Linked DNA regions of Homo sapiens. The protein of the gene in region 3 binds, or shares a complex with, the protein of the main gene of each other region. Each region holds a gene or a part of one and is shown on either strand. Other genes may lie near its edges. A codon is read from its position in the direction of its gene.

Region 1 (3,745 bases), on a different chromosome or scaffold from region 3:
AAGCGGCCAATCTGTTACAATGTAATCACAACACAGATCAAGCGTTCAAAATTCCGCTGAAAATCGAATTTGCCCTTCCAAATTCACAGATAGGCACTTAGTGAACGGCTAGTAGTTACTAAACGCTTCAGAGCAAGAAACTTTTATGATGCAAAGACAAAAACAACCCTCATCTATTAGAGCCAGGCAAGGCCCAGACACTGCAGAAACGGGGACAGGGCCGGGCACTCCAGGAGCGGCCCGAAAGTCTGCCTTCTGTCCTCCTGCTGGGCGCCCGCAACCGGCTGAGCTTTAGCTTCTCGGATCACCGCCTTGCTCTGCTGGTTGACAGCACCGACTTCAGAGCAACTTCCTGGCTGAGGGTGAGCAAAGCACTCACCTCCCACAACTCCACCGCACTGATCTCCACAACGGGTGGTCGCCACGACAGGCTGGCACAAGAAGCCTTTAAAGGCCCTCCTGCACCCAAATGCAAACTCTCCCAGGCTTGGGGAGGTATTCCCTTCTGCAAGACCCAAGCACCTGCAGTCGGGAGACGCTTACCTGGCCGCACCTGATCTGCCCCAGGCCCCGAGAATGTTTCTGAAGCAAGATCCCAAACCCTGAGACACCATACAAGCGCACACCAGCAATCACCCAGTGGCCTAGGGAACGGACCTCTCTGAATGAGCAATCAGGGCAAACTGAGGATCCGTCCCGTCTTCCGTTGCATAGGTTCTCTACCCAAAGGCAACGTTTCTTGAAGAGCAAGAAACACTTGGGGTAGGTCCTGTAAAAGGAAACAAACCGAACTCCCCAAAGACAGGCACTTTGCAAACAGAGAAACTAAGCGTAACTTCCAATTATACAAACAAAACCACTTCATTCTGCGATTCAAGCGTGACTACAGGCCACGATCACAAGCCCAACTAATCATTCCCTTACATTCCTCCTACGCACGTTAACTACCAGAACCAACTACTATTCAACCGATAAAAAGAGATGTCCAAAACAGAATAAAACTCCCCCTCCAGCGAGGCGCTCACGTTCAGGGCCCCAGCAAGCGCCAGCGGAGCATCTTCAGAGGCACAAGAAAACTTACACTTGTTTTGGTTTTAAGGCACCGAAAACAAGCCCGCTCGCCGGCCCCCACCCCCGCGAGCCAGCGATGTTGCAATCCAAGACTCTCCCCCCGCGGCCCATCCTATCCGTCCGCGGGGCGACCGTGACCCCGGAAGCCGCTCCCCGCGCAGGAGGAAGGCGCGGCCTCGCGGGGCCCCGGCTGCAGGTGGCTGCCCCGGCCCCGCGCCAGGCGCACCTCGGGGGCGAAGTGGGGGAGCCCCGGCCCCGAAGGCCTGCGGCGGCCCGGCCGCTCGGGCCGCAGCCCAGCGGCGCCAGCAGCGCGGACCGAGCCGGCGCCGAGCGCGGGGCCTCTCGGGCTCCCCGGAAAGCTCGGCCGCGGCGCGGGGCCCGGCTCGGCGGGGCGGGGCGCGGGGCAGTCGGGGGCCCGGGCCCAACAGGAGTAGAGGCCTCGGCCCGACCCCCGCCCCGCGGCCCCGGCCCGGCCCCCGCACGCGCTCACCTCGGGCGGCCGCAGCCCCGGCGAGCGTAGCGGACAGGTGGAGGACCGAGCGGGGCGGCGGCGGCGGCGCTTCCCTTTGTCTCGGGACTTCCCTCCGGAGCCCGCTCCGCGCGCAGCCAGAGCAGCTCCGAGGACCCTGGCGCGGGCGGGGCGCGCGGGGCGGGGCCTAACGCGGGGCTGCCCTCTGCACGCCTGCCTCGCGCGCCGCTCCTGCCGCCCGGCCCCGAGCGCCTCCCGCGCCGCCGAGCGCTCCCCGTTGCCCGCGCCCCGCCGCCGCGCGCCCGCGCCCCGGGTCCGCCCCAGGAGCCCGGCCGGGGGGCGACTTTCCAGTCAGGCGGCGCCCTGGACACCTACGCCCTTAAAGGAGCCGCGTCCCCGATGTGAGGGAGCGTCTGTAAACTCCCCTTCGGGCTGCCCGCGTCCACCCGAGGACACGCCGGCAAGCAGCGGGGGAAAAAGGAAGCCGAGATCTCCAAAGGCTCCCCGGATGCCTGGCGGTCACCTCTCCAGCCACAGGTCCCGGAGGTTTCCTTGGGGTCAGGTCCTGGGGCCGGGGGTCAAAGACCACTGAGGCCTAAGGATCCTCTGAAGCGTCGCAGGACGGTGACGCTCCCGCGAGTTCAGCGCCCTGTGAAACCCCTTGCAATTGGCCAGTTCGGGGCGGTAGGCGGGGACACCTTCTCATCCGCCCAATGAGCTGACCCCGTACAAAAGGCCGAATGCGAGCATGACCGACGGGAGGAGAAGTGTGGATGCTCCCTAAACCGGGGGCTGGCCCTGGGCCGGGGCGCGGGCGGGACGTGGGGGACCGCGAGCGGCGGGGGCGGGGCGAGCCCGTGGGGGAGGGGCGCTTCCGGTCCCCCCTCCCGCCCACGCAACAAGCAGGACCGGGTCGGGAGGCCCCCAGACCCGCGAGCGCGCGGGACAGTCCGTTCGCCAACGCGCGACCGTGCTGGCCCCCGGGCTCTCCCGGCCCCCCCGCCCGCATTTCGCCGACGGCGGGGCCGCAGCCAAGGTCACGGTGTCCGGGTGCTTGGGGACCGCGGGGAGTGACCACATTCATTCATTCCCTCCCTCACTCATTCATTCATTCCCTCCCCTACTCCGTCATTCCCTCCCTCACTCACTAATTCCCTCCCTCCCTCACTAATTCCCTCCCTCCCTCATTCATTCGATCCCTCCATCACTCAATCATTCCTTCCCTCTCTCACGCATTCCCTCCCTCACTTACTCATTCATTGCCACCCTCACTCACTCATTCCCTCCCTCACTTACTCATTCATTCCCACTCACTCATTCCCTCCCTCACTCACTCATTCCCTCCCTCACTCATTCCCTCCCTCACTCACTCATTCCCTCCCTCACTCATTCCCTCCCTCACTCATTCATTCCCTCCCTCACTCACTCATTCTCACTCTCACTCATTCCCGCCCTCATTCATTCATTCCCGCCCTCATTCATTCATTCCCACCCTCATTCATTCCTTCCCTCCCTCACTCATTCCCTCTCTCATTCATTCCCTCCCTCCCTCACTCACTCATTCCCTCCCTCACTGATTCCCTCCCTCACTGATTCATTCATTCCCTCCATCACTCATTCATTCCTTCCCTCACTCATTCCCTCCCTCACTCATTTCCTCTCTCATTCATTCATTCCCTCCCTCCCTCACTCATTCCCACTCTCACAAACTCATTCCCTCCCTCACTTACTCATTCCTCCCTCATTCATTCCCTCCCTCATTCGTTCATTCCCTCCCTCATTCATTCATTCCCTCCCTCCCTCATTCCCTCCCTCCCTCATTCATTCATTCCCTCCCTCATTCATTCATTCCCTCCCTCATTCATTCCCACCCTCCCTCATTCATTCCCTGCCTCCCTCACTCATTCCCTCCCTCACTCATTCATTCCCTCCCTCCCTCACTGATTCTCTCCCTTATTCATTCCATCCCTCACTCATTCCCTTCCTCCCTCATTCACTTCCTCCCTCACTCATTCATTCACTCCCTCCCTCATTCATTCATTCCCTCCCTCCCTCACTCATTCCCTCCCTTACTCATTTATTCCATCCCTCACTCATTGCCTCCCTCCCTCATTCCCTCCCTCTCTCCCTCATTCATTCATTCCCTCCCTCATTCATTCCCTCCCTCACTCATTCCCTCCCTCACTCATTCATTCCCTCCCTCAC
Region 2 (3,745 bases), on a different chromosome or scaffold from region 3:
GGCTGGTCTCAAACTCTTGGGCTCAAGCAACCCCTCCTGCCTCAGCCTCCCAAAGTCTGGGATTATAGGCATGAGCCACCACACCTGGCCTTATAAATGCATTTTTCTGCAATAAACCTGTACTATCTTGTAAACAAAACTAAATAAATATAAATAACCCTTATGCATACTAAGACTCTTTCCTGTTAAAAATGAAAGCTCCTCGGCCAGGTGCGGTGGCTCCCGCCTATAATCCCAGCACTTTGGGAGGCTGAGGTGGCGGATCACGAGGTCAGGAGTTCAAGACGAGCCTGACCAACATGGTAAAACCCCATTTCTACTGAAAATACAAAAATTAGCCAGGTATGGTGGTGGCACGTGCCTGTAATCCCAGCTACTCAGGAGGCTGATGCAGGAGAATTGCTTGAACCCAGGAGGCGGAGGCTGCAGTGAGCCGAGATCGTGCCATTGCACTCCAGCCTGGGAAACAGAGCAAGACTCCATCTCAAAAACATACAAACAAACAAAAAAAAGCTCCTCAAGTACAAGGACTTCGTCCTGTAGCCTTCTAAAAGTTGTTCAACTCAAGAACTAAAAAGGAGGCCAGGTGCGGCATCTCACCCATCATTCTGAGAGGCTGAGGTGGGAGGACTGCTTAAAGCCAGGAGCTCAAGACTAGCTTGGGCAAAAAAACAAGACTCTTGTCTCTACAAAAAAATTAAAATAAATTAAAAAAAATTAGCCAGGCATAGTGGTGCATGTCTGTAGTCCCAGCTACCTGGGAGGCTAAAGTGAAAGGATCACTTGTGCCCAGGAGGTGGAGGTTACAGTGAGCTATGGTTGTGCCACTGCATGCCAGCTTGGGTGGCAGAATGAGACCCTGTCTCTAAAAATAAAAATTTAAAAAAAAAAAAGAAAAAGAAAAAGAAAAAAAGGCCAGGCATGGTGGCTCACACCTGTAATACCAACACTTTGAAAAACTGAGGCAGGAGAACCACTTGAGGCCAGGCGTTGGATACCAACCAGGGCAACATAGCAAGACTCCATCTTTCCAAATATATAAATAAATAAAATTAGGCAAGCATGGTGGACCATGCCTGTAGTCCTAGTCACTCAGGAGGCTGAGGCAGGAGGATCACCTGAGTCCAGGACTTCCAGGCTGCAATGAGCTATGATCACACCAGTTCACTCCAGCCTGGGCAACAGAGCGAGACCTGGTCTGTAATTTTAAAAAATAGTAAAATAAAATAAACATAAAATTTTTTAAAGAATAAATAAATAAAAAGAACTAAAAGGGTTGGGTGAAGGATGGGACATTAAAAAAAAAACTAAAAAGAGACTCTGCAGAGTATGCTTATAATATATACTATTGGCCTCTATACACAGGGCAGAAAAAGGCAGCATTATTTTTAAAAAATGGCCTTTATCCAAGTCCAACAATTAACCATTAACCCTCTCTACTCACCACCAGGCTCCAATGTACCTTCCGATGAATAGGCACCAGAATAATTTCTTGTTCAAAGAGATTTACCCCTTTGGTCCATCGTTTCACTGCTTGGTAACCCCCAGACTTTAATTTAGGATAGAAGAAAGTACTGAATACATGAAGTGCTGGATAGCCTTGCTTTTTATTTCTTTCCACCAGAAGATTCATGTAAAAATTAATGACCTACAAAATACCAAGGGAGCAAAAGCTGGAACATGGCAAACATATTATCAAAACTAAATTTCTACCTGAATAAGGATGAATTCGAAGGTAAGGTACTAAAGAAGAGGATAAAAAGACTGTCTATAGTAGAAGACAGGGAAAAAAGTGATCAGTGCAAAATGGGACACATGAAAATGAAATGAAACTGTACTTTTAAGGCATGTGAGTAACACTTAACAGCCAGAAGAAGGAATCCAGGAAGAAAGTCTGTGCAATAATGGAAAGATCTACATAACTGTATCACACCAAAAATACGCAGAAATATTAACAGTAAGTGAATTTTACTACATATAAATTAGACTTCAATTTTAAAATATTAACTTGAAGGACATACACCAAAATAATATTTTATTTATCTCTGAGTGGTGATACTTTTTTTTTGAGACGGAGTCTTGCCCTGTCGCCCAGGCTGGAGTCCACTGGCGTGATCTCGGCTCACTGCAAGCTCTGCCTCCCGGGTTCACACCATTCTCCTGCCTCAGCCTCCCGAGTAGCTGGGACTACAGGTACCCGCCACCATGCCTGGCTAATTTTTTTGTATTTTTAGTAGAGACGGGGTTTCACCGTGTTAGTCAGGGTGGTCTCGGTCTCCTGACCTCGTGATCCGCCCGCCTCAGCCTTCCAAAGTGCTGGGATTACAGGCGTGAGCCACCGCGCCCGGCCGAGTGGTGGTACTTTTGAACAGTAATATTTTTTACTTTTCCTGTATTTTCCAAATATTCTACGATAAACAAATTACATTTATAATGTAAAACAAAACATTCCTGTTTTCAAAGAATGTGTTTATAAGTAACTAGTCATAGGGGACTTCCCTCAAAGAGAGAACATGCAGGGGCTAAGCAGTTCGGGGAAGAACCCACCAGAAAATTGTCAAAGAACTTAAGAGTTAGCTTTTGCTAAATGTATTAAGGATACAAGATGACAAGTTAGGCAAAATTTTTCAGCTATCACTCAAAGAAAAATACACATAGTATATAGTGATCAATATATCCCTTTATTACTCAAAAAATAAAACAGGCCAGGCACGGTGGCTCACGCCTGTAATCCCAGCACTTTGGGAGGCCAAGGCGGGCGGATCACCTGAGGTCCAGAGTTTGAGACCAACCTGACCAACATGGAGAAACCCTGTCTCTACTAAAAATACAAAATTAGCCGGGCATGGTGGCGCATGCCTGTAATCCCAGCTACTTGGGAGGCTGAGGTAGGAGAATTGCTTGAACCCAGGAGGTGGAGGTTGCGCTGAGCCAAGATTGCGCCATTGCACTCCAGCCTGGACAACAAGAGCAAAACTCTGTCTCAAAAACAAAACCAAAAAACAAAAACAAAAAAATAGCTACTATAAGAATTCACCTAAAATACAGTATCACTTGCTGCTTCCTCCCGTTTATCAGCTGTACCCAGGGTTTATTGAAGACCAGTAAATGAAGTGGTGGATGCAATAAAATACAGACGCAGAAAAGGGAAACATCGCTAATCAAAGGCAGAAAATCAGAACTAACCATCTTTTTAAGATTTAAAATGTTTTTGTTTTAATTATAACTAAGAGTTGCATTACCAACCCATTATAACTGGGTAGGAGTCACTTTGATTATAGATAATAAATAAATAAACTTAATGATAGCCAAAAGGGGGAGGGAATACAACTTACTTCATCATTGAGCCAGTGATAGTTCTTTAATGTCTGAATATCTCCTCGAGTAATTCGCAATTTGAAAGCACTACTTAGGATTTCATCCTGTGGGCCATGGCCTAGGGCATTACTGATTTCCTTTTCCATGTCCTGAATTAGAAAGTTCAGAAGTTGCTATTTTAATATAGAACCATTCATTATCAGTTATTGAAAACTCCGAGACTGAAAAAAGTTTTTCATCTCGGCAACACCTGACTCTTGAGAAAAATATACTATCAAAGACCTACTAAACTACAGTAGGAAAACATTTTTTTCTTATTTTTAGTGATAGAGATGGGGCCTCATTATATTGCCCAAGTTGGTTGCAAACTCCTGGGCTCAAGCAATACCTGCCTTGGCCTCCCAAAGTGCTGAGATTATAGGCATGA
Region 3 (3,745 bases):
TATGCTGTCTGAAGGTCACAATCATGTTACCATATCGAGCTGAAAATGTCACCACTATCTAGAGAGTTGGACATGTTTTATTGGGAATATATTTTTTTCTCTGAATCTGTTATGAACGTGTTGGTTGGCTAGGTTCAGTAATAAATATGTGAGACCTTTCATTTTTTAAAAAAAAAATCATCCTTAACAATCCCAGTGTCCTGGAAGAAGTAAATGATTCAACTTTGGATATAGTTACCAGGTCTATTGCTAACAGAAGTAAAGATGAAGAAGGTATGCAAAAATATCATAAGAGAAAAACTATTCCATGGCAACCAGCCCTGCCTCAATAACAAAACAACATCAAGAGGACTGAAAGAGGAGGAGGAAGGTACCTGCTGTTTCATGTTTTTGAGGCGACCTTCCAATTCTAGGGCCTAGAATCATGCTGTGAACATTGTGACATTTAATAAACATTTGTTGAATGAATCTGGCCACTCTCCTTTAAAAAATTTTTTACTAATTATCCACTCAATGTGCTAAGCATTACAGGAAAAAGAGGATAAATAAAGCCTGATGTAATGGAGAAAAGACACTTAGAATGTAAATAACTGGCAACGCGGTGGCTCACACCTGTAATCCCAGCACTCTGGGAGGCCGAGGCAGGTGGATGACTTGAAGTCAGGAGTTCAAGACCAACCTGGCCAACATGGGGAAAGCCCATCACTACTAAAAATATAAAAACTAGCCAGGCGTGGTGACACACATCTGTAATCCCAGCTACTCGAGGCGCTGAGGCAGGAGAATCACTTGAACCAGGAGGCAGAGGTTGCAGTGAGCCGAGATCATGCCACTGCACTCCAGCCTGGGCCACAGAGCAAGACTCCATCTCAAAAAAAAAAAAAAAAAAGGAACGTAAATAACTGTAACATTACATGTAAAAATTATGAAAGAGATACCCTAACTGCCTTCGGGACTAAAGGATGTCATGAGTTGACAACTACTTAATAGTTTTTAAATCTGAACTACTAAATCTTAATGAGTAATCATAACATTCATATTCAATTTTTAAACTACTAGTAAAGTTTGTTTAGATAATGCTACAATCTATACATTTGTAACATCCACTAGCAGGACCTCATGTCTATCAGAGCGGACACAGTATTCTTCTTCTCCTAGGGCATGAAATGCTTAACTACATACTCAAGTAATAACTACAGTTTAACATATCTATTCTATGATATAAATAGTAGTACACACAATTATGAATTTTAATACACAACCAGTTCATCATATTCTCCTGCTATCTCAAGCAAAGAATTTCTAAAATCAGTAAAAATCAATAGCAGGGAGCTATATAGAACACTGCAGGGAATAATACTATCATGGCAGCAAAAATACAATTAATGTAGATTAAAGATAACTGCAAATTCTTTGTTACTCTCCCATTGAGAAACAGTGTCTAAATAAATGCCTTTCCCTTGAATCTGGCTGACCTTAGTGATTTGAGTGGGCAACAGAATTACAGACGTGACTTCCAAGGCTAGGTTGTAGGAGACTTGCTATTTCCACCCAGGTTCTCTTGGAACACCTATTCTCTCTGTGATCCCTGAGCCGTAAGTCTGAATACCCTGGGGTCTCCATGCTGACATCACATGATGAAACCACTAAGAAAGGCTCTGAGACTATATGGAGACACTTGCCCCATCCAGTCTCATCTCACCTGACAACTAGCTGTTCCAGCCCCCAGCCACTTGAGTCATCTCAGCTGAGGCCCCACACACCAAGAAGCAGAGGTGAGTCTAATCCACAGAGCCCTGTCCAAATTGCAGATTTATAAACAAAATAAATGGCTGTTGTTTTAAGTCACAAAATTTTGAGGTAATGTATCAGATAATCAGAATTACACAATGCTTCCAAATCCTTGACTAAAGATAAAAGGAAATCATTCAATCTCTCTTTGGGGGTGTTAATACAGATTCAGTTAGAGTGGAACAGTCATCCAATTGCTACAATTAACAGACTTGAATTGAAGAGCTGACCAAGCTACCTTTAATGATTTTGGTATAAAAAAGAAACACTATAAACTCAAATATCAGAAAGGAGGAAGGGGAAAATATTTGTACAAATTACCCTTATCCTTTTGATATTAAGCTTCGGGTTCTGTACGAGCACTTTGTTTTGCTACAAGGTGAGACTGGGCTAAAGGAAAGCACCCAATCAGATTTCTGTTACTGGTTAAAGGATGGTCCTTAACCATTTTGAGGAATCACGTACCCCTGATGAGACTATGGGTCCTTTCTCCTATTTAAAAAAAATATATATATATGGCTGGGCTCACGTCTGTAAACCCAGCACTTTGGGAGGCCAAGACGGGCAGATCACCTGAGGTCAGGAGTTCGAGACCAGCCTGATGAAACCCCATCTCTACAAAAAATACAAAAATTAGCCAGGTATGGTGTCATGTGTCTATAATCCCAGCTACTAGGGAGGCTGAGGCAGGAGAATCACTTGAACCCAGGAGGCAGAGGTTGCAGTAACCGAGATCACACCACACTGTACTCCAGCCTGGGCAATTGAGCAATGCTCTATCTTAAAAAAAAAAAAATACGTATGCACAAATACTCACAAAACACTCCATACAATGTAAGCGAACTTTCAGTCTTTATGGTCTATGGGCCTTAGGTTTAGAACTTATTTTAAAGGATTATTTAATAATGGTACACAAATCTACTAGATGATGTTGGAATTGTTAAAATTATAAAGAAGTGGGTTTTTTTGTGTTTTTTTTTTTTTTGCCAGGCACGGCACCTCACGCCTGTAATCCCAGCACTTTGGGAGGCCGAGGCGGGCGGATCACAAGGTCAGGAGTTCGAGACAGCCTGGCCAATATGGTGAAACCCTGTCTCTACCAAAAATACAAAAAAATTAGCTGGGCATGGTGGCTAATTTTTTGTGACTCCGTCTCAAAAAAAAAAAAAAAAAAAAGTTTTTTGTTTTTTTTCCTTTTCTTTTTTTTTTTTTTTTTTTTTTGGGACAGAGTCTTGCTCTGTCGCCCAGGCTGGAATGCAGTGGCATGATCTCCGCTCACTGCAACCTCCACCTCCCAAGCTCAAGCGATCCTCTCGCCTCAGACTCCCAAGTAGCTGGGATTACAGGCATGAGCCACCAGGCCCAGCTAATTTTTGTATTTTTAGTAAAGACGTGCTTTCCTCATGTTGGCCAAGCTGGTCTCAAAGTCCTGGCCTCAAGTGATCCCAAAGTGGTGGGATTACAGGCGTAAGCCACCCTACTCAGCCATTAAGAAGTGTTTCACTCAAATTCCAAAAACAATCATTTTTTCATTAATCAATGGAGGACCCAGCAATTGAAGTCTTGTGTGTATTTAATGTCCACCGATTTTAACCTTGTTATTACTCAATTTCACTATTTTAACACCAGACAATAACCTTCTGAGAGCTGCCTCAGAAAACACATCACTCTAAAATAACTTGATTCAAATTAAGGTTGTCTTCTTAGGACAGTGGTTTAGTCTCATGCTGATATTAAACAGTACAGGATTTGGAGATTCTTGTTCTCACTTATAAACCTCTTAAGATTAAGGGTTCAGCTTTATAACTCTTTTAAGTCTTTAGCACTCAACACTGAACTTGTACTGGGTCTTCTTTGTTTTGAGTCAGGGTCTCTATCGCCCAGGCTGAAGTACAGTGGCATGATCTTGGCTTGCTGCAACCTCGACCTCGCAGGCTCAGGTGATCCTCCCATA

What was found.
Region 1: the proteins of SUMO1 (region 3) and UBE2I are in contact, whole or in part, in a cryo-EM structure (PDB 9B62), measured with the Homo sapiens proteins. Residues at the interface, in NP_001005781.1 of Homo sapiens: Gln29, Asp30, Ser31, Gln55, Gly56, Val57, Arg63, Tyr91, Gln92, Glu93, Thr95, Gly96, Gly97; in NP_003336.1 of Homo sapiens: Asp19, Lys48, Asn85, Cys93, Leu94, Ser95, Arg104, Lys110, Gln111, Leu114, Gly115, Glu118, Leu119, Glu122, Asn124, Asp127, Pro128, Ala129.
Region 2: the proteins of SUMO1 (region 3) and SENP2 are in contact, whole or in part, in a crystal structure (PDB 1TGZ), measured with the Homo sapiens proteins. Residues at the interface, in NP_001005781.1 of Homo sapiens: Asn60, Arg63, Leu65, Glu67, Gly68, Gln69, Arg70, Ala72, His75, Glu89, Tyr91, Gln92, Glu93, Gln94, Thr95, Gly96, Gly97; in NP_067640.2 of Homo sapiens: Asp386 (codon at 3,422), Lys394 (codon at 3,398), Leu395 (codon at 3,395), Arg396 (codon at 3,392), Trp410 (codon at 3,350), Leu411 (codon at 3,347), Asn412 (codon at 3,344), Asp413 (codon at 3,341), Glu414 (codon at 3,338), Thr440 (codon at 1,573), Phe441 (codon at 1,570), Pro444 (codon at 1,561), Lys445 (codon at 1,558), Arg456 (codon at 1,525), Trp457 (codon at 1,522), His474 (codon at 1,471), Val477 (codon at 1,462), His478 (codon at 1,459), Trp479 (codon at 1,456), Met497, Gln542, Gly545, Ser546, Asp547, Cys548, Gly549.

Annotation. Positions count from the first base shown.
Region 1 is NC_000016.10:1,307,590-1,311,334, reverse strand, and holds the start of UBE2I (SUMO-conjugating enzyme UBC9), read right to left. Parts: upstream 1,700-3,745; 5' UTR 1,562-1,699; intron 1-1,561. UniProt on the Homo sapiens protein: Accepts the ubiquitin-like proteins SUMO1, SUMO2, SUMO3, SUMO4 and SUMO1P1/SUMO5 from the UBLE1A-UBLE1B E1 complex and catalyzes their covalent attachment to other proteins with the help of an E3 ligase such as RANBP2, CBX4 and ZNF451.
Region 2 is NC_000003.12:185,617,202-185,620,946, reverse strand, and holds part of SENP2 (sentrin-specific protease 2), read right to left. Parts: intron 3,468-3,745; coding exon 3,336-3,467; intron 1,649-3,335; coding exon 1,445-1,648; intron 1-1,444. UniProt on the Homo sapiens protein: Protease that catalyzes two essential functions in the SUMO pathway.
Region 3 is NC_000002.12:202,231,876-202,235,620, forward strand, and holds part of SUMO1 (small ubiquitin-related modifier 1 isoform a precursor), read right to left. Parts: intron 170-3,745; exon of another isoform or gene 1-169. UniProt on the Homo sapiens protein: Ubiquitin-like protein that can be covalently attached to proteins as a monomer or a lysine-linked polymer.